Regions from separate parts of the Homo sapiens genome. Here all the other regions are linked to region 1. Evidence: fine-mapped expression QTL. A gene starts in region 1. Each other region holds a variant in brackets. All regions are shown on one strand. Distances are from middle to middle. Region 1 holds the start of LINC00487 (long intergenic non-protein coding RNA 487). Region 2 has its middle 58 kb from the start of LINC01810. Region 3 holds the start of LOC105373404 (a long non-coding RNA gene).

Region 1 (8,183 bases):
GGACCTTAAGGTTCCAGAGTTCCTGCCTCTTTTCGCTAACCTCATCTCATTTCACTTTCAACTGCAGGCTTGTGAAAATTAAGCAAAACCAAACCAAAACACAAGCTCTATGTGCTATGGATAGAAACTGCTGGAAGAGTTATAAATTTTTTTTTCTTTTTATATTATACTTTAAGTTCTGGGATACATGTGCAGAACATGCAGGTTTGTTACATGAGTATACACGTGTCATGGTGGTTTGCTGCACCCGTCAACCCCTCATCTACATTAGTTATTTCTCCTAATGCTATTCCTCCCCTAGCCCCGCCACCCGCCAACAGGCCCCAGTGTGTGATATTCCCTCCCTGTGTCCACGTGTTCTCATTGTTCAACTGCCACTTATGAGTGAGACTATGCGGTGTTTGAAGAGGTATAAAATGTAAAGACAGCTCTACGGTGTGGCCCAGAAGCTGTGCTTCTCACAGGTTCCCAGGCGGTGCTGGGGACGCTGGCCCAGGGTCTCCACTCGGAATCACTGCCATCAGGTGTCTCATTCTAACGCTAATTCAAAATTATTAAGGGCCACTGTGGGCCTTCTAACATATTCCCTTTTTTGAAAGAGTTCTCTGAAACTGAAACCTAACTAAGACTCTGAACTAAAGTTAGGAACTCATTTTTACTGATTAAAAAAAAAAAAAAAAAAGAAAGAAAAAAAAACTATAGCCCTCGCTAATATTGCTTCTAAATAGCAGGGCAGACAGGCAGTCTGGGCGCACCCAGTCATGATGGTGTCACTCGCCCTTCCCCAAATCCCCATCAGGATGAATCAAGGCAACATGACCCTCTGGGAACATTCCCCAGGCCCTTCCCCCAGTATGGCTTCTGGGAGCAACTGTGGGGCCAGGGGGTTTCCCAAAAGCCAGCTTTCCCATGACAAAAGTGCACAGAACATGCCCCACCCTTCAGTTCCTACGTCCTTGGAAGCACCAAGCAAGTCATACAAAGTCGTGGAATCACAGAGGATGGATTCACATAGGACGTTTCTAGTAAAACAGTGCAAGCTTCTCCTTGGCCAAAACCAGAGGGCTTCCTTCTGATGCCCCAAGTGGTGCTTGGGTCCCTGGCCAGGGAAACAGTTCACTCTCCCAGTACCTGCCCTTGTGCATTTGTCATAGGATTAGAAATGAGTAGCCAGCATGCTCATGGCCGTGTATTACAGCATAAATATTCAGAAACTTGCTTTAGACATCACTTACAGATTCTTTCCTGAAACTTCACATAGAACGTACAGAAACACAAGTATTGTGTGAAGCAGTTGTGGGGCCAGGGAGGTGCCCGGGCTTTGAGGGCACGTAGCCTTTGCCATGCAATAGCTTCTGGAATTACACGCATGGCCTGCTCCCCAGCTTCCCCACCAGCAGGGACTGGGGCGTGGACCGGGGATGGAGACTGGGGGTGGGGGTCCACCTGTGGACCTCCGATAGGAGGGAGCTGCTTGGCCCTTCTCTGGCCCATCTCTGGCAGGCAGTTGCTGGACAAACTGCAGAGGTCTCCACCTGCAGCATCCAAGGCACACAGGCTCTTCATAAAAATCCCTTTCTCCTGTCCCCTTCCAATTGGTGGCAGCTGCCACTCAGCATCTTTGGTTTTAAACAGTGAAATGGCTTCCCAGATGTCAGGGGGGAAAATCAGTGCAAGGCCTAGACTCGGAATTCCAAGTCGCCCCATCCAGATAGCTGCACCGAGAAGAGAGAAGACACAGGACCGTTTTGTCGTTTTCATTTCCGTTTTCTTTTACTAGGAAATTGAAATCGGGTTTCTGGTCTCCGCACTACGGGCTCAGAGGGTTCTTTGGTGTTGGGGAGGCATCGAGCCTTTGGTGCTGCACACACCCTAAACCCTGGCTCCACCCGTAGATGCCAAGAGCCCCCTCCAGCTGCGATCGCCAAAAATGTTTCCAGACTTTCCACCTACCTCCAGGGGCAAAATCACCTAGGATGAGAACCACATAATTCAGGGGCGTCCAGTCTTTTGGCTTCCCTGGGCCACATTGGAAGAAGAATTATTGTCTTGGGCCACACATAAAATACACCACACTAGCAATAGCTGATGAGCTAAAGAAAATCATAGCTGAGAAATCTCAATGTTTTTAAAAGGTTTACAAATTTGGGTTGGGCTGCATTCAAAGCCACCCCAGGCCACATGGGCTGCAGGTTGGACAAGTTTGAAATAAGTTATGCTATGGCAAACAATAAGCTGATATTATACAAATATTTTACTTACAAAAAAATAACTACCATAAAAAGATGTACGTGGAGGCGTGTGTGTGTGTGTGTTGGGTTGTGTGGGAAGGGGTGTGAGCATATGTGTGTGTTGAATGTGGGTGTGTGTGTGTTGGGTTGTGTGGGAAAGGGTGTGAGCAAGTGTGTGTGTTGAATGTGGGTGTGTGTGTGTTGGGTTGTGTGGGAAGGGGTGTGAGCATGCGTGTGTGTTGAATGTGGGGGTGTGTGTGTTGGATTGTGTGGGAAGGGGTGTGAGCAAGTGTGTGTGTTGAATGTGGGTATGTGTGTGTTGTGTGGGATATAAGTCTGTGTAATGTGTGTTACATATGATGCATGTGTTTATGTGTGTAGTGTGGGTGTTGGTGTGTGTGTATGTATGTATCTGTGTGTTTACATCTGTGGTGTATGTGTATGCATGTTTGTGTAGTGTGTGTTAGTGTCTGTGTATGTGTGTGGTATCTGTGTATTTTTGTGTGTAGTGTATGTGTGTGCATGTTTGTGTAGTGTGTGTTAGTGTCTGTGTATGTGTGTGGTATTGTGTGTTTATGTGTGTGGTGTATGTGTGTGCATGTTTGTGTGTGGCATGTGTTGGTGTGTGGCATTTGTGTGTTTATATGTGTGTTGTGTGTATGCATGTCTGTGTGTATATGTGTGGTGTCTGTGTGTTTCTGTGTGTGGAATATGTGTATGCATGTTTGTGTGTTGCATGGTGTGTGTATGTATGTGTGTGATATCTCTGTGTTTGTGTGTGTGGTGTCTGTGTATTCATTTTGTGTGTGTGGTGTGCACGTGTGTGGCATGCGTGTGTTTAAGTGTGTGATATATACATACACACGTGTGTGTTTATGTGTGTGGTGTATGTGTATTCATTCTGTGTGTGTGGTGTGCATGTGTGTGGCATATGTGTGTGTACGTGTGTGGTATATACATACACACATTTATGGATGGGGGTGTGTGTGTGTTGTGTGGGATATAAGTCTGATGAGGTAAAGAAGCTCCAGGAGATTCTCTTTGGTTGAATCTCATGCCATGAGACTTGGCTTCTGGCCACGATGGAGTGAGAAGCCTGGACTGACCTTTCTGCCTGGAGCAAGGGAACACCGTGTAGAACCGGCACGGCGCATCTTCCAGACGGCAGTGCCCAGGCTGCTTGGCAGGCACCCCTGCAGGAGGGGTCAGGGAGGTGGGCACCCAGCGGTCCCTCAGCACCCGTCCCGTGTGGCACAGTCCAGCCGCCTCCCAGGGCCGAGGAGGGGAGACGCAGGCTCCTGGGCTGCTCCCACCCAGGCCCCTGGAACAGCGCATCTTCTGTGACCGTGGTGAAGGAAAATCTCAGCCTCTGCTTCCCACCTCCTCAGCCCCTGCCTCAACAGGAAGCCCACAGCGCAAGAGACGCCATTCTAGGGCCAGGAAGGAAGAGCCTCAGACCCTGGAATTGCCATGTACAAACTAGACGTGTATTTATGGTGTGTCTGAATGTACAACAATTTCCTGTTTCGGAGAAAATAGTTCCTTCCTGGAAGGGCTGTTCTGTATTTGCACACTTTTCCCATGTGATTTTGGGGAAAAGTACCTGACTTTCTGTGAATAGACGCACTTTTTCTTACCGAAAATAATGATAGTTTCAATCTGGCTATAATCGTTCATATTCATGATTTTTTTCGGATGTAGAAATCAGCAGTTTTGCATTGTAAGACCTCACCCATCCACCACTCACCGTCCCCACACCCCTGGGAACAGGAGGAACCTCACAGAAGAAGAAGGTGGATTTTACTACCTACTTGCCACACCTCAATCTCTCTGTCTGTAAGCAGAGAGAATACGGTAATAATAATATTAATAATGATAATAATAATACCTTTCTCACAAGTTCGCAGGGAGGGATGAGTTCATGCACATAAAATGCTCAGCCCAGCACAGCTGAGCACACGATTCTCAGCACTATTACTTGCATTCTTGTCACTGAAAGGAAGAGGGAACGGAGTGTGACAGCGCAGGTTAGACCCCCGGCGCAGCCATCCACCTGCCACTTTGTCACAGGGACTCCACGACTAACTGCCGCCCTATTTTCCCATAAGCAGGCAATGGTGATGATAAAATCATTCTCAAAGCTTAGGGAGGCCAGGACCCAACCCAGGGCCGATCAACGCAAAGCCCTTGCTGCTTCCTATCCCATAAAACCCAATTATTTATGAATGTGAACCTAAAGCCGCATCCTAATTTAGAAGGCATGGAGATAACATGGCCAAGCAGCCGCCTCTCCAGGCAGCGAGATGACTAGGTAGGTCCCAGAGCCCTGAGCATGTCCCCTAGAAAACAACTCAAGACAAGTGCATTTGCATGCCTTCTTCTGTCTCTCTGAAATCACTCAGTTATAGTCACTCAGTGTGTGCTCACAAACACTGAGTCTCCCCTACACGTGATGCATTTCAGTACCAGGGCAATTCGAGTGAGAAACATGGCCATAGCCCCCAGCCTCTTGGACTATCAGAACTCTTAGGAAGTACAAGGATTGAAATATGTGGTCTAACAGCAGAGCGGTATTTTTCTCATTGTACCACCTTGTTGTAAAAAATTGCTGGAGCCTGAAGGAAACCACCTATGGGAAGGGTGTGAGTCAATGGTTCCCCACTTCTGCAGAGTTCCTTCTGAGCAGCTCAGAGCCCACCCCGTGTGGACACATCTCTTACCAAGATGACCTTCCCCTAGCGGGAAACGGAGGAATGAGCAGGCGGCACTCACAGTGCCAATTACAGCAAGGGGATTTGCATAGGAGACCTAACTGCCTGTTTCAATTAGGAGCAGCAACTCCCTCCTTCTTCCTTCCCAAGGAGCCAGGAACACCAGGCATGTGGGTTTGGATTTGTCTGGGAGGAGGCATGACTGTGCGCACCAGAGTGAAAGCCTCCCCACTCACACTGCTCACCTGGAGAGAGGCTCAGGGATCCTGGCAGGCGCAATGTTTGAGAAATGCCCAGGCGAAGAAGATGAATGCTTCCTTTCACCGGGCCCTCCCTGGCTTTAACTCTTCTTAGTCCTGTCTCTGGGAGACCCTGGCAGCCCCTCGCAGCTGTGACCTCTCTAAACTGTCAGCCTCAGATTAACTGATACTTCATCAATTTTGCCTGAACTGCATTTGCAACCCGGTCTCAAGAGGACAGCCAAGTGCATCAACGCTGGGCATTAACCCCCCAGAACCAGATTGCCTTCAAAACGAGGGGGACTTTTCCAATATTCTCACAGCGGCCCGGGCAACAAGCCTAGGGGGACTTTGGCCAGAGGGGAGAGAAGGGGCCTCTGATTATTCCTTGTAAATTTTTCATGAGGACATCTGCCCATACTCTGCGCCTCCTCCAGAGCTGCCCTCTCTCTCTCTCTCCCTTCCTCTGTCTCTGTGTTCAGGCCTCTGACAAGGCATGAAAAACGAGAATGATTGGGCCTCAGTCCCCATTAGCCAGGAAGTGACTGATGGGAGGATGGGCGTGTGTGGTGACTTCAGGCTTGGGAGGGGCCGGGGCTGCCGGGTTTTGAAACAAAAGACCAGTCAGGAATGGATGAGTCCTAGGTGGATCTGCAGATGGAGGCTGTGCTGTGAGTAGGTGGCTAAGGTGCACAGATGGTCATGGCTGATAGGCCAGCCTGGCCCGGGCTCCTGGTTCTGCAGACCCCAGCTCTGGGCTGGAAAATCGGTCCCCGCCTCCCCCATCTTCCCCAAGATTGTCCCCGTCCTTCCTCGGGCAGACCTTCACCGTGGAGCAGAAAGCTGCCTACAATATCGCCCAAATCAAAGCCAAGAAGAATTAGAGTGTAGGGACAGGGGAACAGGGAAGTGCTTTTTTAATTTAAATAATAAAAAATAAAAAATAGTCATTCTTTTGGAAATACTAGCAGCTTACAAGCTTTAAAATCCTCTTTCCCAACAGTTTAAATCAAAAGCCAGCAGCCCTTTCTCATGGATGCATCAAATCATGCAGATGTCCTTTTTGTGCCCCCTTTAAGGTGACATGTGCTTCAATTTATTTTTAATCTTCTAAGTGATGTCATCAGGACGCCGCCCGGGTGACACGGGAGGTGGCTGCTCCTGGGGCTGTGGGTCTGGGCAGTGCAAGCTCCACGCGCACTGACCCCATGGGCTCAACCCAGAGTCCACAGTCAGAAACCGGCCCCGGGCGGCAGGAGACGCTGCAGAGGGAGATTCCATAGAAGAGGTAAATTCATTAAGAAACTCATCACCGAGCACACCTTAGAAATCCCACCTTTTGTGCTCAACGTGGCCGGGTCCCCGGGGACGCCGTTGGCAGCTCTCCATGGAGCAACAGTGCCACCCAGTGGTCAGTCCTCGCGATGCCGCCGCCCGCTCCCCTGTGCGGTCCTCAGCGGCCTGGGAGAAGACAGAGAAAATGAGTTGGTACAAACGCTTGCCCCGAATATCACATCTTTAAATAGTTACCCACATGAAAGAAGGCCTGCAACTGATTCAAAACCACCTCGATGAAAAAAATCTGAGCACACCCATCAAAGGCACTGCGCACAGAACTCAGGAATGTTTTCTGCTGTTTGGAGTTTTCTTCTCCCCTCCTCCCTCCTCAATAACGATACTGGTGATTACATCTTCCAGGGGAAAATAAAATTAAATGCATCGACTTAATTGTTTAATTAGTGTGAGCATAGGTAGTACTATCCAATTCAAAGATCTAAGCAACTGAAATTCCATTTGGAGGGAGTTCCCCCACTACGGGAAAAGGAAGCAGGAGTGTCACAGGATTGGGGATCACACAGATGGAGGGAGAAATCTGGCCCTACATCTCCCGCGTGTGGCTGATGACGATGGGTGAATCCCCTGTGGGCATTCCTGCCTCCTCATCTGTGAAGCGGATCACCTGTGAAGTCAAATTTGCAGAGAAAGTGATTCTAATTGATGAACTCGAAAGAAATGGGAGTATTGTTACCACCCAGCTTCCTTTTGAACCCCTGCCTCTATTCCTAATGCCATTTCCACTGTACCTTTCCGCCTAAATGTCCCCTTTCTCTCTTTACAGACCTGTAAGCGCAACGCAGACCCCGCCCTCCTGCGCCAACAAGCCTCTTCTCCAAACGCTCCATGAAAGCTGATGATTCTCACTTCTAGGTTTTCTGATTGATCACGTTGTCAAGATGGATCTCTGTATTTTCCTGTATTCTTCTCCCCATAGCTCTTTCCTCATATTGTGGATGCTTTAGAAACCCTTATTAGTGAATTGGCTTGTTTTCAAATTAGAAAAACCTGAATGTTAAGGCAGAAAGGACCTGAATCTTAAGGCAAAATACTTGGATCCACGATCTGACTTCATCTCTCCGTATCTGGCCTTATCTCTCCAAATCAACAGGAGCAATCCCTTGATTTAGGTAGAGGGCTGTTATTTTGTTTTGTTTTCATCCATGAAATGAAAGTTTGGGCTGGGGAAAAGTTTGCAGTATTTTTGTTGTAGTTCCTGCAAGTTTTCAGCTAATTACTTAGTGATGCCTCTTAAAAATCTCACATAGTGTGTTATTTCAAAAAGTTATTCCGTGAGTCCTGTAAATTACTAGGTTAAATCGTGTAAAATTGCTGTTTTATTGGCCAAAAATTAACAACTATGAAAAAATGTCATAAGATATAACCTAAAATAGCTCTTCCAGAGAATTAAATCACTCAGTTATAGTCACTCATTGGTGCCCACAAACACTAATTGAGTGTCCGCTATACGTGGTGCATTTCAGCACCAGGGCAATTTGAGTGGAAAACATGGCCCCCAGCCTCCTGGATTATCAGAACTCTTAGGATGTACAAAGGACTGAAATCCGTGGTCTAACAGCAGAGTGGTGTTTTTATCATTGTACCACCTTGTTGTAAAAAAAAATGTGCTGGAGCCTAAAGGAAACCATGCATGGGAAGAGTGTGAG
Region 2 (8,183 bases), 900 kb before region 1:
TCAGTATTAAAGAAAGTAGCATGGCAGTACAGAACAAGATTTACTTGTCATTAAGTGGGGCTCTCGATGTTGGCTCATCTCCCTCCTGCCATATACTCTGAGGACAAACTGTTGTCTTTGCTGGACGGTGGAGAAGGATGAAGAAGGCTTAGTTACTGTCTTCATTTCCCTGCATTCCGATTCAAAGCATCACCAATGTCCAATTTCAGAAAGCCAAAAATCCTCATGCCGAGAGGGGATTGCCTTCATTAAATGTTTACTGGACACTCCCAGGGGTGATCTTTTCATTATATGTGATGGGCTGGGCTGCCGGGCCATCTTTGTGGTGAGACTCTTTGCCCCTGTTCTAGACAACAGTGTGGGCTGCCTAGGTGTCCGTCTCTGGACTCCAGCAGGGTGGGGCTGCTGACCAGGCTCCACAAGTGCTCTGGGCAGCAGCTGCAGACTCGACACTTCTGCCAAGGCGGCCTGTGTGGGCAGAACCAGGGCATGGAAATAGCTGAAATCCAATGGGCGTGTATGCTTCCGGCTGCTGCCCTGCTCATGCTCTCATCTAGCAGCCCCATCTGCTGCGTGGGAGGCAGCGAGGAGGGTGCAGTGTCTGGTGGCTGTGAGAACCCTGGCTGCCCCTGGGAGTCTGTGCCAGAGAAGGGCAGGACGGCAAAGCTGAAGCAACTGCTGAGGCCATGTTAGCCCCATTCCGCATCATACAGACCAAGCTGCAGAGGTCCAGACAGTGGGACTAGCATCCCCAATGTCAGACAGCTGGTTGAGGTAATAGAGCTAGAATCAGATTTCGTTGTGCACTGTGAAAACCATCTTGTTTCTAGGTCTTTCTAGACCAATTGCAACCTTTTTACTGATACTGGCATAATACCAGTTTTCCCAAATAGTCTGCTTATCATCTCACTCCTCAACGTTAGGCTTCATGAAGACTTCCTTTCCCTTCATTCTGCATCTTTGACACCTCTAGACCAGTTGTGATGACTCTAGAACAGCTGACCACAGAAACAGGCTAGGGTAATCCTACAAGGTGAAGTTCACAAGGCCAGTGCCTGCTTCCATGGTGCCTACTGCCAGGCCTGCTATTGCCTTTGAGATCTGACTCAGAACACAATGCCAAGAGCTTTCTATTAGATACAAACACCCGACTTTGGACACTCTGTTACTCAGGTTTTTTTAATCCCTCACATAGAAAAGCACCAGAGTTGTCACCATACAGAGCAACCCCAGATTCAAGGACAAATTGTTTGCATCTGTTAAAAGTCTTACAACTTAAGTTACCATTGGCTCCAAATAAGGTCAGTTTGGATTCTAGAAAACAGAAATCATCATTACCTCCTCTTTTTTATGAAAACTACCTTCTTGCCTCTATCTTTTATAAGAACTGTGTTTTACACTTACTGAATTCTCAGCACAGTAGAGTTTATTGAATCCTGGGATTTCTGTCCTCAGAGAGTCCTTGGGATCATCTAGTTAGAATTCCTTTCAACTTACAAATGCAGAAACTCACCCAAAATTCTTGTGTTTTGCCCTAGTTCTTGAGGCTGGTTATCTGATTTCACCCTCAGAACTGTAATCTAGGTCTTTCTGCAACCCTATGGAGGGGTCTAGTGAGCTGCAGAGGTGTTGTGCTCTGCAGAAAACAGGGGAGGCATGGAGCCCTGTAGGACTGTCTTTGAAACCCCACTCCACCTCCTTCTGAAAGGCAAGGCTGAGCTGTAATCTAAGTCTTTCCAGATATTCACTGAAGTCAGAACTGGTGCCAACCAACTCTAACCAATAAAAAGTCAAGTTTGCCCACTTGTGAGAGACGCCATGTGGCCTGGCCCTGTGCTTTCTTCCTGTGTGTGGGCTGCTCTGAGCAGGATGCATGTGGCAGCAGAGACGAGGAAGTGCCAAGGCTCATGAAGACCCCAGGACTACAGAAAGGACCGCTGACTTTACAGTATCATGGCCTGTGTGGACATAAGTGGACATAGGGCAGGGGCCAGCCAGTCAAGGAGTCCCAGGGACCTCGTGTTGACTTATCTTCTGCCCAAGTGGTGAGAAAGGAGGTGGAGACATCTGTGACTGCAGTATCAGCCGGACACAGTGGCACAGGGAGCTTTCTACCCTGTCTGGTCTACAGGCTCATGGAATAGTAGGCTACCCGGAAGCGTCTTATGATCAAAGCTTTTTGTGTGGCCTACGGTAAAATAAAGTAACTGAGGAACAGCTATAAATAGGGTAGGACACTCTTCCCAAGAGACTTCTTGCCGGGTGGTGGTCAGAGGCATCTGTGCCCACACCCAGGAATGCCCAACAGGTCCCAGGGCCATGAGACTATGCAGAGGACTAAAAGAGGGTGGGGACACAGCTGTGGTCTCAGGCCCTGACACTTCCTTCGAGGAAGGGTGCAACTGCATTCTTGTATCGGTGTCCTCCCAGGCCTTCCGGGGATTGCCCTGGAAGCGGCCTGCTGGAAATGGAAAGCTATGTGTCTTTTAATTGCTCCTGATCCCTGGAAAATCCCCAGGCGTGGTTGCCTCTGGGGATGTCTTACCCCGGAATAAGCAAGCATTTGAAGGTCTCTTGGCTTTCAGAGAAAAGGGAAACACGACACTGGTAGCTGTTGAAGCCAGAATCTCTCTTTCTTCTTCACACATTCTCTCTTCTCCTGTCCCTTACTCTGTCCATATTTCCTTTCATCTTTTTAGAGAGGTAGAGAAGTTTTTAAAATAGGACACTAGGAATCACAGAGCTGTAAATTTCTTTGCTTTCTTGCGTTTTAAAGATTTAAGAAGTGAGGCCCGGAGAAGGAGAGTGGCTTGTCCAGATTAGGAAAAATGAAGCCCAGAGCTTCTAAACTCAATTTGTGATAGAGCCTCCTTCTTCCTCACTGACGCCCACCTGTCCTGAGGCACCTGCACCTTATCTGCAGAACAATTGGATGTCCTGTTTGCTTGCCCATCTATCCACTCAGTTATACAGAGGGTTTCAGATTTTCTGTGGCACTGTGAAACAAACCAAAACCACACAGCTGCCTGGATTTGGGATCTGAGCTGAAAGATCGTCTTTGCTTCTCTACTGGTGACCCCAAGCCTGTTATCCTCTGTCTCTCGGGGCTATTTCCTCAGCTTTGCCATAGGGAGGGTTCACTTGGACACTAATGCTCTGGAGTTCACTTGGACACTAATGCTTTATCATCTCTCAAATCACTTTCATTCCATCTGAGTGTTGCAGAAATACATGCTTTGCAGGGAGCGCAATATTTAAGACAACCCAGTCCACCAGGCCTGCGAAGTTGGGAGCTCTCACCAACTTCACCAGACTTCAGAGTTGTTGTGAGATCAGCTAGAATGTGAGCCGCATGACATATTGCCACTGCGGCCCCCACACTCTGACATTCCTGTGCACGGCCCCTCAACAGCTGCTCCAGTGAGAATCCAAGTATAGTTC[A/C]CCCTGTGGCCACATCCTATGCTGCTTTTCGGATCAGCTTTTGGGTACGGCCATTTCTGTGAAGGCCAACCAGCTTGCCTTCATCTTACAGGCAAGAATTCCCTCACACATTCAATTTCAATGACTCGGTTCAGAGTTTATGTTCTTTTTTTTTTTTTTTCAGTCTTGCATTTACAAACTCACAAAAATGCAACCTGCAATAGCGTTATCATGGTTGTGCTGAAATAGTCGAGGATCTGGCTGGGGAGAGCTTCATACTTCCTGCAAGGAAAGGCAAGTGATCTGGAAAGCTAGAGTTTCTCGTTTCTGTTCTAGACCTTCAGTGTCAGGCCAAGTCTCGGGAAAGATCTGCAGCTCTAGGACTCAAGGCTAGAATGTGAGCCGGTGCTCTCCAAAGGTCCCATAGCGTGACTGAAGTTAGTGTAAAGCCAGTCATGTTTTTTCCAGGATAGCTCTGACCCTTCACTCCAACTCTGCCTTAACCAGTCACATCTCAACTTCACTCTGTTTCTGTCAAAGAAAAGCATAATCTTTACTTTTAGACACATCTGAGCTCAAGTCTTTCTCAGCCATTTGATATAATTTTGTTACCATGGCAAGAAAATTAAGTAGCCTTGCTTACTCTCAAGTTCCAAAACCTTAAAATCCAGCCACTGCCTGACCATGTGCGTATTGTGAGAATCAAATAGAGTAACACAAGTAAAGTACCTGGCATGCACGTGAAGTTCCTTTTCTACTCTCAGTTTCTGTCTCTAACATTCCCCATTCCCCCTTCCCCAGACGGCTGTAGTAGAAAAAACCTGAGAACACAAAAACTGGCTTCAGCCACCTAACGACCTCTGTGATTCTGAATAAGCTGCCTAATTTCCTCATTGGAAAAGTGGAAATAATAACAATACGGCAATTACATCTTTGATAGGATTACGTGATGAAGATGACAGTGATAATGATAGCTGATGTCTATGTTAAATATTTTATTTACGTTTAGTATTTGTGAGTACTATATGCCAAGTAGTTAATGCATCTCACTCACACAAACATATCAGGTGGATCACTATAATAATGTCTATTTTTCTCATGAGCGACTTGAGGCACAGAGAAGTTAAGTAACCTTCCAAGGTAACAGAGAGATGCTTCCAAGAGTCTACATTAGGAGTTCCTTTGTCTTTACTTACCTGCAGTGCCTGGCTTATCATCCTGCCCCGGTAAATGCCCTACCTGGGTGGAATGAACAAAGGTGAAGAAGGCGTCCTCCGCATTCCTACTGCAGATGGGGCTTTTGTATTTTTGCCCCAGGCTGTGGCTGTTGAATTGGAGACCCATCATGCTATTTGGTTTTTTGCTTTCAGGTGTTCAGGACACCAGTGATGGAGGCTTCCTAGGACCACTTGCTTTTAATTCAGCTTGTTAGGATTTCTCAGGATCAAAGGCAAAATACATGCAGCTCTAAGTCTGTGACAGTGAGCAAATAGCGATCAATGCCTGGGAGAAAGAATTTCAGGTTTAAGGCCAATTCCAACCTCTCTCCCCCGGCTGTGTCCTCCTTAAGCACAGTGCCCCCTCCTGCAGGTGCTTCTGCCAAGACACAGTTGCTCTGGAATGGTGAGAACTCATGTGCTCTTGAGCTTGCAAGAGGCTAAGACAATTATTTTCAGAAATGAACCAAGTTAATGAATGTAGATTCAACTTGCTATGATAGGAATCTGTTGACCCAGTAAATGTTATAAATTTTTTATAGGTGAATTACTTCCTTCTAAGCATATTTTTATAAATTCCTCCAAGTAATGAGTTGAATGGTATAGTGTTGCCTGGTTTGTATCTTCATTACCTGCAGTACTTGAAATCTATGATATTAAATCAGCACTCTATGCATAAAGTTATATAGAGATATCTAATTAATGGAATTACTGTGTGAAAAAAATGTAAAGTGTCAATTACTACAGTGCCCACATAAATGAGAACTCCCAGGTGACCTGAGGCTGCAAAACATACATTTTGCACACACAATAATTGATGTCTTTTTTCTTTTCTTCACAAATGCACCTGTTTCTAGTCCAGCCCTCTGGCTTTCCCTGGAATTTCCTCTCCACTTGGAATCGTGGAAGTGGCTAAAAATTCCACCTCAGATACATCTCTGCAGAACCTTAATTTCTACTTTTGGCTGCTATAAGTCTTGCTTCTTTGTTATCATGGCCTATGATCATGTAATGGACAGAATGTTGGAAGTAATTCTGCTAATTTAATGTTCATCCAAAGCTGACACATCGTCATTGCACCTTCCTTAGTTGATAAAACAGTCAAAAGATTGATCAAGTCTGTTTTACTGCAGTGAGCACATTTTCCTCTCCTTCCTAGTGTCTTTGATCTTTAAATCTCAGTTCTTCATTTTCTGTAGAAGGGATTCCCAAATTCTATTCTCTCAGCTGGCACTGTTCTGTAAATGTAAATAAATTTAGATACATATGTGTGTTCCTTAGTTGGAAGAACTACTATTTATTTTTAGAGTGATCTTTCCTATGTTTTAATGCTTAAATATCCTGAATGTGGGGTGATGATCAATTTTTGTTTTGTCTTGAATTTATGGATCTATTAATATCCCAAATCTGAAAGGCACTTGCGTAAGAATGCTGTTTTTCATTGATTCCCAAATACACTCTCCCTACCCCATCTTCTTATTTCTGAAACTGAAACATAACTTAGAGTCAGCAACACCTTAGTTTCAAAGAAATAGAGGTATATCCATTATTACAATCTTATCACACGTGGATAAGACGAATGTTTATAGACAGACTACTTTTCCTTTGGTTTTCTCATTGGAGTCATACAATTGAGTGTGTGTGTGGATGAACATACTCTCTGAGTTGCATCAAGATATTTTGGGGGTGGTTGATATAGATTGGATTTTTTTCCCTCAAAATCCATACATGGTATCCTTATAAGAAGAGAAAGACACCAGTCATGCACAGAGGAAAGGTCATGTGAGGACAGAACAGGAGGGCAGCCATCGGCAAGCCAAAGAGAGAGACCTCACCAGAATCCAACCCTGCTGTCACACTCTTCTTATACTTCTAGCCCCTAGAACTGTGAGAAGTGATTTTTTTTCCTTAAGGCACCTACTCTGTGATATTTTATTAAAGCAGCCCTAGATGACTAATACAATGGTAAAGGAAGAGATCAATGTTGCCATGATGATATTGGGAATTATTCTGTAAATGAACAAGTGAACTACAGCTTGGCCACACACACTGGAATGGACAAATTACAGATTATTATTTCTAATCTTTAATTGCAAAAGTTCTCCATATGCATTGTATTAGTCCACGCTCATCCTGCCAATAAAGACATACCCAAGACTGGGTAATTTATAAAGGAAAGAGGTTTAATTGACTCACAGTTCCACATGGCTTGGGAGGCCTCAAAATCATGGCAGAAGGTGAAGGAGAAGCAAAGTCATGTCTTATGTGGCAGCAGGCAAAGACAGCGCATGCAGAAATTATCTTTATAAAACCATCAGATCTCATGAGATTTAATCACAATCATGAGAACAGCATGAGAAAGACCCAACCTCATGATTCAATTACCTCTCACTGAGTCCTCCCACAACACGTGGGGATTATGGGAGCTACAATTCAAGGTGAGATGTTGGTGGGGATACAGCCAAACCTTATTATCTATTAAAATTCAGCATTAAAATCTGAGTCTATTTATTCATTTAAAAAATAAACTCTCAGCAAAGAAGAATAAAACGTCATCAAACTACAAAAAAGTATTTATAAATCCTATAGCTAATATTACACTTAATGATAAAAGACTGGATGCTTTCTTCCTGAGGTTGGGAGTAAAACATGGGTATCAACTTTCACCACTTCTATTCAATATTGCAAGAGGTCGTAGCTAGAGTGATAATGCAAGAAAAATAAATAAAGGGATAATAATTGGGAAGGAAGAGGTAAAACTGTTGCTTTTCACAAAGGGCATGATTATCTATGTAGAACACTCTAAGGAATATTAAAAAAAAACTAGTAGGATGAATAAATGAATTTGGCAAGGCTGTAAGATAATGATTAATATATAAAACATAAACAGTGGAAAAATACTTTTATAAAATATCATCTGTAAGAGCCTCACTAATACTTAGAAATAAATTTTATGACTGATGTGCAAGACCTCTGTAAAAATGACTAGAAAACATTACTACGAAATGATAGAAAATGTCTAAATAAGTAAAAAGACAGACAATGTTCATAAAATGAAATATGTAATGCTAAGATATCCATTTCTCCAAATTGATTCATAGATTCATTATGTTTCTAATAAAAATTTCAGCAGGCTTTTCAGAGTAATTGGTAAGCTGTTTTTAGAATTCATATGGAAATGCAAAGTATGTACAATATCCAAAATATCTTGAAGAGTTGGGAAAGTTGGAATACTTACACTAACTGATTTAAAGACTTACTTGGATCCTAGGCCTAAATGGAGAAACTAAAAGTCTAAAAATTCTAGCAGAAAACATTCTGCAATTTTAAAGTAGGCAAAGACTTCTTAGACAGAACAAAAAAAAAAACCATACAAATTAAAAATATATAAATTTATCTTATTCAAAGATAAAGTCCTCTGATTTTCAAAAGACACTGTTGAAAATATAAAAAGACAAGTCATCGAATGGGAGAAAATACTTTCAATCTGAATAATTGGAAAAGGGTTAATATCAAGATTACATAAAGCATTTGTAGAAATCAATT
Region 3 (8,183 bases), 23 kb after region 1:
AGAGGGGCTGCATTGGTAGTAGCATCCTGCAGAAAAGTCAGCTCATCTAGCTGCACACGAACCAACCCGATACTCTTGCACATTAACTCAAGCCTGTAATTCCACGTTGAATTTCTCATGGCATTAGGAAAGCACTCAGGCATCTCTCCACGGAATTACAACCCTATTATGTACAATTGAGTATACATTACTCCTTATTTTCATGTCAATAGCTTGGATAAGGCTATTACTAAAGCACTGGAGTATATAAGAGTTACATACTTAGGGGCAGAAAAAGCTGAACTGGGAAATTAAGATGCAAAATATGAGTGAGTAAAAGCTATATTTTTGTGACACATTTATATCTCAACTGGAGTAATTAGACAAATATGAAATGAGACAAATTGTCATTTTATTTATTTCCATTTTTACTATCATCTAGTCAGCTTTTAATCTGTATTCACCTGCACAAAGTATGCATTTCAGTGGTCTTATCTCTGGGAAAGGCAGGCAAACTGATGCTGCCTCCTACAATATCTAGTTTCCTTTCAAGAAAGCAGAGGGGTTATTGTTTGCCAATTAAAAATAAAAGAACAAGCCTTAGGGGCCAGACTGGGAATAAAGTGGAGTTTTTCCCCAAAATTTTAACACTTTTTTAAAAGTGACAATAATAATAACTGCCAGTTACTGAACTATTTGGGATAATATTTCAGAAAATGAAATATGGAGCAAGGCTGGCAGTTAAAATAGAGTCAATAAGGTTCAAATCCCGCTCTGTCATTAATTATATCTCTCTTAGACTCACTTCTTCATCTGTCAAATGGGGTTTGACATGGGGTTTTTAAAGAATTAAATGAGACGATCTATATGAAAAACTTAACCCACTATATGGCACATAAGCACTTAAAGCTTGTTATTTTCAATTATTACCGAATTATTAATTTAGGCAAATCATAGTCTTTTTGAACCTCTATTTTCTTACCCACAAAATGGGAATAATAATACCTATGCCACAGTATTATTATGAGGACAGCAAATGGCAATGGTGGCAGTTGCTACTGTTAAGTGGGTTGAGAAGCCGGGCAGGGTGGCTCATACCTGTAATCCCAGCACTTTGGGATGCTGAAGCAGGAGGAATGCTTGAGTCTAGAAGTTTAAGACCAGCCGGGGAAACATGATGAGACCTCCATTTCTACAAAAAAATATAGAAATTAGCCAGGTGTGGTGGTGCGTTCCTATAGTCCCAGCTACTTGGGAGGCTGAGGCACGAGAATCACTTGAGCCTGGGAGGCAGAGGCTGCAGTGACTTGAGGTCACACCACTGCACTCCAGCCTGGGTGACAGAGAGAGATCCTGTCAAAAAAGAAAGAGACCCTGTCAAAAAAGAAAGAAAGAAACCATCCTGGCCAACATGGTGAAACCCCGTCTCTACTAAAAATACAAAAGTTAGCTGGTTGTGGTGGCGGGCACATGTAGTCCTGGCTACTCAGGAGGCTGAGGCAGGAGAATCACTTGAACCTGGGAGGCGGATGTTGCAGTGAGCTGAGATTGTGCCACTGCACTCCACCCTGGGCAACACAGTGAGGCTCTGAGGAAGAAAAAAAAAAAAAGCAAGAAAGCAAGCAAGAAAGAAAGAAAGAAAAAAGAAAGAAAGGGAGATAAGCGAAGGGAAGGGAAGAGAAAGAGAGGGGAGGTGAAGGAAGGAAAGAAAGAAAGGAAGGAAAGAAAGAAAGAGAGAGCGAAGAGAAAAAAAAAACTGAAGAAGAAAAAAAGTGGGTGGAGAGCTTAAGGCAAGCTTCCAGGAGGATGGAAGACTCTGGCGACTTCTTGAAGAAAGAGAAAGATACTGGGGTTCACCAAACAAGAGAGTGTGCATCCTGAAGAGTGCTCCAGATGCCTTCTCCAGCTATGATGACAGCACCTGAGGGTGGAAGGGAGGCCCTAGAAAGGGACCAGAGAGAACCGGGATGCCAAAATCATGGGACAGAGGGTGTGTCTGCAGCACAGCTTGGCAGGAGCAAAGAGATACAGTCAGAGAGGACTTGACCCACACTGGCCCACAGGTGGCAGCCTAGGGAGACCCGCTGCCCATGGAGAGGGAGCCGTCAGATGATCAAGTTTAAGTTGATGGCTGAAGGAAGGCAATTACTGGAAGCAAAGTGAGCCAGTCAGCTATCCTGGAGATTCTGCAAATAAAGTGCAGGGTGAGATGAGGACAACTGCCTCTGCGATTTGTCACAGCTGCCCTGGAAGCTCCTTCTGCTACATCATCCCAGTGCTTCTCATTTGGTGGCATTGGTGACACTTTAGTCCATAACCACCATTGTCCATGGAGTCATTGATCCATAGGTTATCCACAGAGCTATGTCCTCCTTGCTGGATAAATGCACAAACTGAAGAAACACATTGAGTCACTGCTAAGGGAATGCCTCAGCTGAGGTCACCAACACAGCATGGTGTGGTGAGAAGGACCAGCCGGCAGTGCCAGGCCAAGCATGTAGGCCAGGAGTGTTGCATGAGGTCAGGAGCCAGGGCAGTGGTGTGGATGGTCCTGCTATGGTTTCCAGAATAAAATGAGATTTTGTTCTTTGATTTTCCACAGTCTGAAATCAATTCTTCAGAACTTTTAGGGCCGAGGCCAAAATGAAAGATGAGATAAAATTACCATAGGCTTCAATTCTGAGTCACAGCTTCACCACCAAACTGGAAAACTGGTGGCTACGAGCATCACTGGAGATATCTCTGAAAGCCAAGAGCACACTTCCAGCTCTGCTGGTCAGTTGCTGCCTACCAAGGGCTGCACTGGGCTCATTAACATCCTGCTCAGAAATGCCACTTGGCTGCAAAGGGAGAAATTGCATCCTCAGAAAATACCTTATGAAAGAGAAGGTTTCTGCTTCTCTCCATTTCTCTGCTAACAGAGACAGTCTTGAAAGGCTACAGGGAGGAGGAAGGAGGAAAGACGGAAACACAGACAGGAAGAGAGACCGTGTTGTATTGACACACGTTTCCAGCAAAATTACCTGGTAATTTACCCTGGCAGTTAAAGAAAAGCATCTGTTTACTGTTGCCACATCAAAATTTCCCCATAAGATTTGTCCGAATAATTGTGGGAGATGAAAACAAGGATATACAGTGGAGGCCTCCATCAGCCGTCAGTGCTGTGCCATGTCTCACCCACTTTTACATCCTGTAATTAAATCAGCGAGCCATTCAGACTGTCTCTGTTTCTAAATTACACGAAATGAGGATCCTTCCAATCACGCCTCACATTCAATTTGTGCTGTCACTCTCTGACTTGAGGAATGGTGAAAGAAAAAATAAAGTCCATCTGGGAATTTTATTTAACCAGGGAATGCCAACCAATACAAGAGATACGGAGCTATAAACAAGTGTTTTAAATAGGGTCTCCCTAGTCTCAAGTCTTGCATAGATGAATGCAGGAAGAAAAGATTGAGGATCTGCACTTTGGAGCACATATTTTTAAAGAATGGACTCCTATTTCATTTTCCACATGGCAAGTATGTTATCCTCAGTAACAGACTAAGGTCTTTGCATGAATTATTAAAAATCCAGGGCAGAAAACTCTAGATAACTGCTTCAATTTGTCGATAGAGATGCAACTTGTGACCAGACCAAGAAGATTAGAGACAAAAATCAAGCAAAAAGAGATTCTATAGCACAGCTCTTAAAAACAACAGGCCCGTTGGCTACTTCAAACACTAACTCTCCCACCTATTAATTGCATCACCTTAAGCAAGCTTCTAAACTCTGCTCTGTGACGCAATTCCCTAGCCTGTGAAGTAGCACTGGTGTGGTCACTTATAAACCCTCCCTCCTGAGAGCATGACAAACTCCAGTATATACAGTAAGCACACAAGGCAAGGACTCTATAAATATTCT[T/C]TATTGTTAAAGCTCAATTACTTGTGAGGTAAGTAGGAGAGTTGTGTAGGATTGTGAAAGGGCTTTGATTTTTGGTGCAGACAGTCCAGAGTTTAAAAGTTGTTTCTCCCACTATCTGATCAGAGGCTCCGGAAAAATTAAAGCTTCTATACTTTAGTTTTCTAAATTAGTAAAAAGGTAAAATGCTGAGGATGAAGTCAACCTCCAAGGAGCAGTTTTAGTCGTTAAACAGACTGGTCAAAAGTTAAAGGATTAGTGCCTATTAGTGCCTTTCTCCTTTTCTCCTTCATCAAATAGTAAACTGGGAAGAGCTAAAGCAGAGATCCATAGATCTCAGAAGACGTGAGTGCATGCAGGAACGGTCTGCTTCTCATTCTTCATGTCAAATGAGAGACCAAGAACAGAGGAGGAGCTCATGCAGGCCCAGGCATGTTGCCCGGCACTACGCAGATATAATAACTCACCTTATTACAGGAGCCCTACAACACAACCCTCGTGAGATCACACAGAAGGTCTAAGTCATTTTGTTTGTCTCCTGCATGGTTCTGATGCCACAAATTATTAGGCAGTTCAACTGTAGATTTGCCAGCACTCCCCAGTCACACTCGTTGATGTGCCATGAACCTGCATGGAGAAGAGACATTCCTGAACTGTGATACAGAAGAACACAGGGCTGATTTGCAAGATCTTTTCTATCCACCGTATGCTTTCTTCGAGTCATATTTCTGTGGATTTGAACAAAGAGCTATGCACTGCCCTTGAACCCTTGATGGTGATCATCATCCGTGTCTTATTTATGTCTCTATTTCCAGGAAGAAACCCAGGGCCTGGCACATCACGGGTTTGCAATAGCTGCATGTCTGCCTGTCATTTTCCCTGAGCCTCCTCGGTTCTATATATATTTTTGCTGATTTTGTGCATATGTTGGAAAAACCCTAGAGAAGCAACAGAAAAGCACTGTTCAGCTTCTCGCTGATGTTCTGACCACGTGATCATGATCCTACACTGGGCCATGTGACTGAACTGGTTCTTTTACCTCAGCAAGTCTAATGGCAGCTGTTTGTTAAGTGCCTCCTCTCTGTCTAACGCACTTTACATGGGTTGCTCCATTTAACTGTCGCAGCCTTCTGAAGGAAGCGGTGATATAATCATCCCCATTTTACACATGAGCAAACCGTGGCTTGGGGCAGTGCATTTGCCCAAACTCACACAGTTAGCAAGTACCTGAGGCACCTGGACGAAGGAGCTGCCTTGTTTCCACTTTATTGCACAGGTTCCGTCATCTTATTTAATCTTCACAACAGCCCTATCAAGTCGCTGTTATTATCCTAGTCATAGATGGGGCAGTGAGGGAGGCTTATACACGATAGGCTGGAATTGGTACCCAGATCTTTTCACCTGAAAGCTTAGAATCTTCCATGCACCCCTCGTGGGCTGCTGTGATGAACTCCTGGCCAGGACACACGTGCCTCATGGCCTGAGAAGAGCTCACCACAGCCATCTCCACAAAATAGAATGAGAGAAGTTCAGCGCTGGAGGGAGCATAGGCGATCATACATTCAATCCCTTTGCATTAAAGATAAGGAAACAAATTTTTAAAAATGCCCAGTCTCCTGAAACCCACTTTCCATAAGGAGAAGAAAATAGAACTATATGAAGAAAGGCCAAAGATGGAACTTGTTGGTCTAAAATAGCAGTCAGAAAAGCCCAAAGCCTATCTTTGCTATGGCCCAAGTTAAAAATGGTTTTTATATTTGTAAAGGAATTAAAAACAAGCAATCAAAAAAGACGAAGAAGAAGAATAATCTATGACGGAGACCTGATGTGGCCCACAGAGTCGAAAATCTTCACTCTCTGGCCTTTCACGGAGAAAGGATGCCGACTCCCGATCTGAGCTATGGCTGCGTGTTAGAATGTCCTGGGGAATGTTTTCCAACAAGCCCATCCCCTTTTTAAAAAAATTAATAAAAAAATAAAAACAAAAGCAGAACAAACAAAATATATGCCTGTGCCCAAGTCCAGCTGGAACCAAGCAAATCAGCATCGCTAGAGATGGCAGCCCAGGTGGTGATGCCACTAAAAGTTCCCGGGTGACAGTAATGCACATCCAGGATGGAGAACAGTGGTCTAAGAAGAAAGACAAATGCCTCTTTAGGAAAAAGTTGCTGTTTTATTTAAGAAAAAGACCTCAGTGGGCCTGTGTGGCTGTGAATGTCAAGGTCCACTGGTTCAAAATGAGAAACGTTTAGAAAAAAAAAATGAACTCTTCTGATCGTAAACAACAGAAACTGTTGCCTGCTCTTGGTGGAGATATTAGACAAAGGAGAAAACACAGAGTGAGAGAAGAGAGGTTTTGAGAGAGAGAGTCGGCCAGGATGTGATGGGGTCAGGCAGGCTCAGGAGAGAGCAGCTCAGGCAGGATGGCCTGTGGTGGATTGGACTGGATTTCTAGTGGTCATTCATAAGTTGTTGCCTGTTCTCTGATGGGGCCACTGTATGGCTCCCAAATGTCAGCAAAGTCTGTTTCTCCAAAGCCTGCGTTGGTGGAGTTTAAAGAATGAGGGGAGCGAGGAGTAAAATGCTGGCTGTGGGCAGGGAACCAATGACGTGGGTGGGCAAGAATCCAGGGGCCCGAGCACCGGCCATGAGAATAAGGGCCTCCTCGGACAGAAGGGGACGCTCCCCTTAGGAAGTGGCTTCACGCTTCGGTCACTGCATGTAGATCTTAAAGAAAGGAAATCTCCAGAAGATCGGGGAATGTGGGAGTGGCAGACTCTGGGTTCATGCACAGTAAGCAAACAACTTTCCTTTTTCCTGCAGCTCCCTGTTCCACTTTCCCAACACGTTTCAGCTTCTAGAATCCCTGTCTTTGCTCATATCATTCCCCTGCCCAGGATAGCACCCTTCTCTCAAATGATCAAAAAGACCACTTTGCTTTAAAACCAGCTCAGGCTTCATCCTATGTGCAAGAGCCTTTCTAAGGCCATCTCTGTATTTTCTCAGAAACAAAGGATATATCACTGTTTTTAAGATGTGTTATGTTTATACTTTTATTGGTCTTAACTTACCTATCAATGACACAGGGGCCTTCTCTTATGCCTGGGTTCAAAAAGAGATGCTGAGACAACAAAGGAAGATGCTCGCACCCTCAGCATCCTCACCTGCCCCCTCCTGCAGGCAGGATTCTGCCTGATGGAATCCCAGGTTTGTGAGCCAACACACAATGTTTATGATCAAATCACCAAGAAAGAGGCAGAAGGAGAGAATGAAAGCGCAACCCAATGAGAGCAGCAAGTGCAGAAGGAAGAGAAAGTGTCCAGCCTCATCTGTCTGGGGAAGCTAGGTGTGCATGCAGGGTCAGTGCAAGCATATTTGTTAGTCCCCTGCCACTGAGATGGAGGCCAACAGTTTCTACTTCTCAGAGATTGGCTCCAAATTTCCTATGCAAGATGGCCTTGGAAGAGGCAAACTGGTTGGAAGAGGGGGTTTGACATTATCATGGGGCTCTCTGCAGAAGATGAGAAAATGTCTACAATTTATATCAGAGAAAAATAGAAACAGGTGAAGACTGCTGTGGCTCTCTGAGCCTTTCAAGCAAGGTGATGAGCAGCTGACTTCGTGTAGGGGTGAAGGCCAAAGACTGAGCTAAACAAGTACATGCAAATGTGTTATCAAAACAGGGTGCAGGAGAGACTCTCTTAAGCAGAGGGGCAGAACTGATAGGGTCCGAAAATCTCATCGCAGGGCAGGAACTGCAGATCAGAAGAGGGACAGGAATCCGACGGCAGCATTCTGAGCTGGTTTCTTACAGGCTTCTTCCATGTGTTTTTGTGGACAGCATATGCCCTTTTAAAGACACTAAGCACCAAGAAAGAAGAGCCACAAATACCCGACCTGGGATGGGGCCTTTCTGCACTTTAGCACCAAAATTTTTAAAAATGAGAAACCTGGGGAGAGCAGCTGACACTTGTCAAGGTCTTACACTGCCAGTCCCTCCAGAAGTGCTTTACCCATAATGTCCTTTAATTCTCACCACAGTCAAGTGCTGTGAGTCTTAGATGATCGACAAGACGTGAAAAGAAAGCAAAACAGAGGCCTGGCCTCGGTGGAGCCCAACATCAAAGGCCAGAGCAGAAAGAGTGGTCAAGGGTGCAGGTCAGAAACAGAGGTTGGGCCACAGCTGGCCAGACGTGGTGGGGAAGGCATAGCTTCCTCAGCCTGGAAGAGCACATTCACCCACAGAGTATCCTGAGGTTATCGAAATTCCACAGGAGGCCCAGCGTCCTCTCTCCAAAGACCAA

What was found. PIP is the estimated chance that this variant, and not a neighbour inherited with it, causes the effect.
Region 2: its variant is fine-mapped to the expression of LINC00487 in minor salivary gland (GTEx, PIP 0.99).
Region 3: its variant is fine-mapped to the expression of LINC00487 in testis (GTEx, PIP 0.94).

Annotation. Positions count from the first base shown.
Region 1 is chr2:6,766,742-6,774,924 of GRCh38, forward strand. It overlaps LINC00487 (long intergenic non-protein coding RNA 487), which reads right to left and starts at 3,570. Exons shown (of 6, transcript NR_038369.1): 1 at 3,338-3,570. It overlaps LOC105373404 (a long non-coding RNA gene), which reads right to left. Exons shown (of 4, transcript XR_922745.3): 4 at 6,082-6,642. RefSeq lists an enhancer at 6,426-7,625.
Region 2 is chr2:5,866,716-5,874,898 of GRCh38, forward strand. No RefSeq gene overlaps it. Among named protein-coding and RNA genes, the nearest start is that of LINC01810, 58 kb to the left of the region's middle. The variant A/C (reference allele first, on the strand shown) is at 3,442.
Region 3 is chr2:6,789,798-6,797,980 of GRCh38, forward strand. It overlaps LOC105373404 (a long non-coding RNA gene), which reads right to left and starts at 7,137. Exons shown (of 4, transcript XR_922745.3): 1 at 6,951-7,137; 2 at 4,347-4,506; 3 at 1,078-1,171. The variant T/C (reference allele first, on the strand shown) is at 3,883.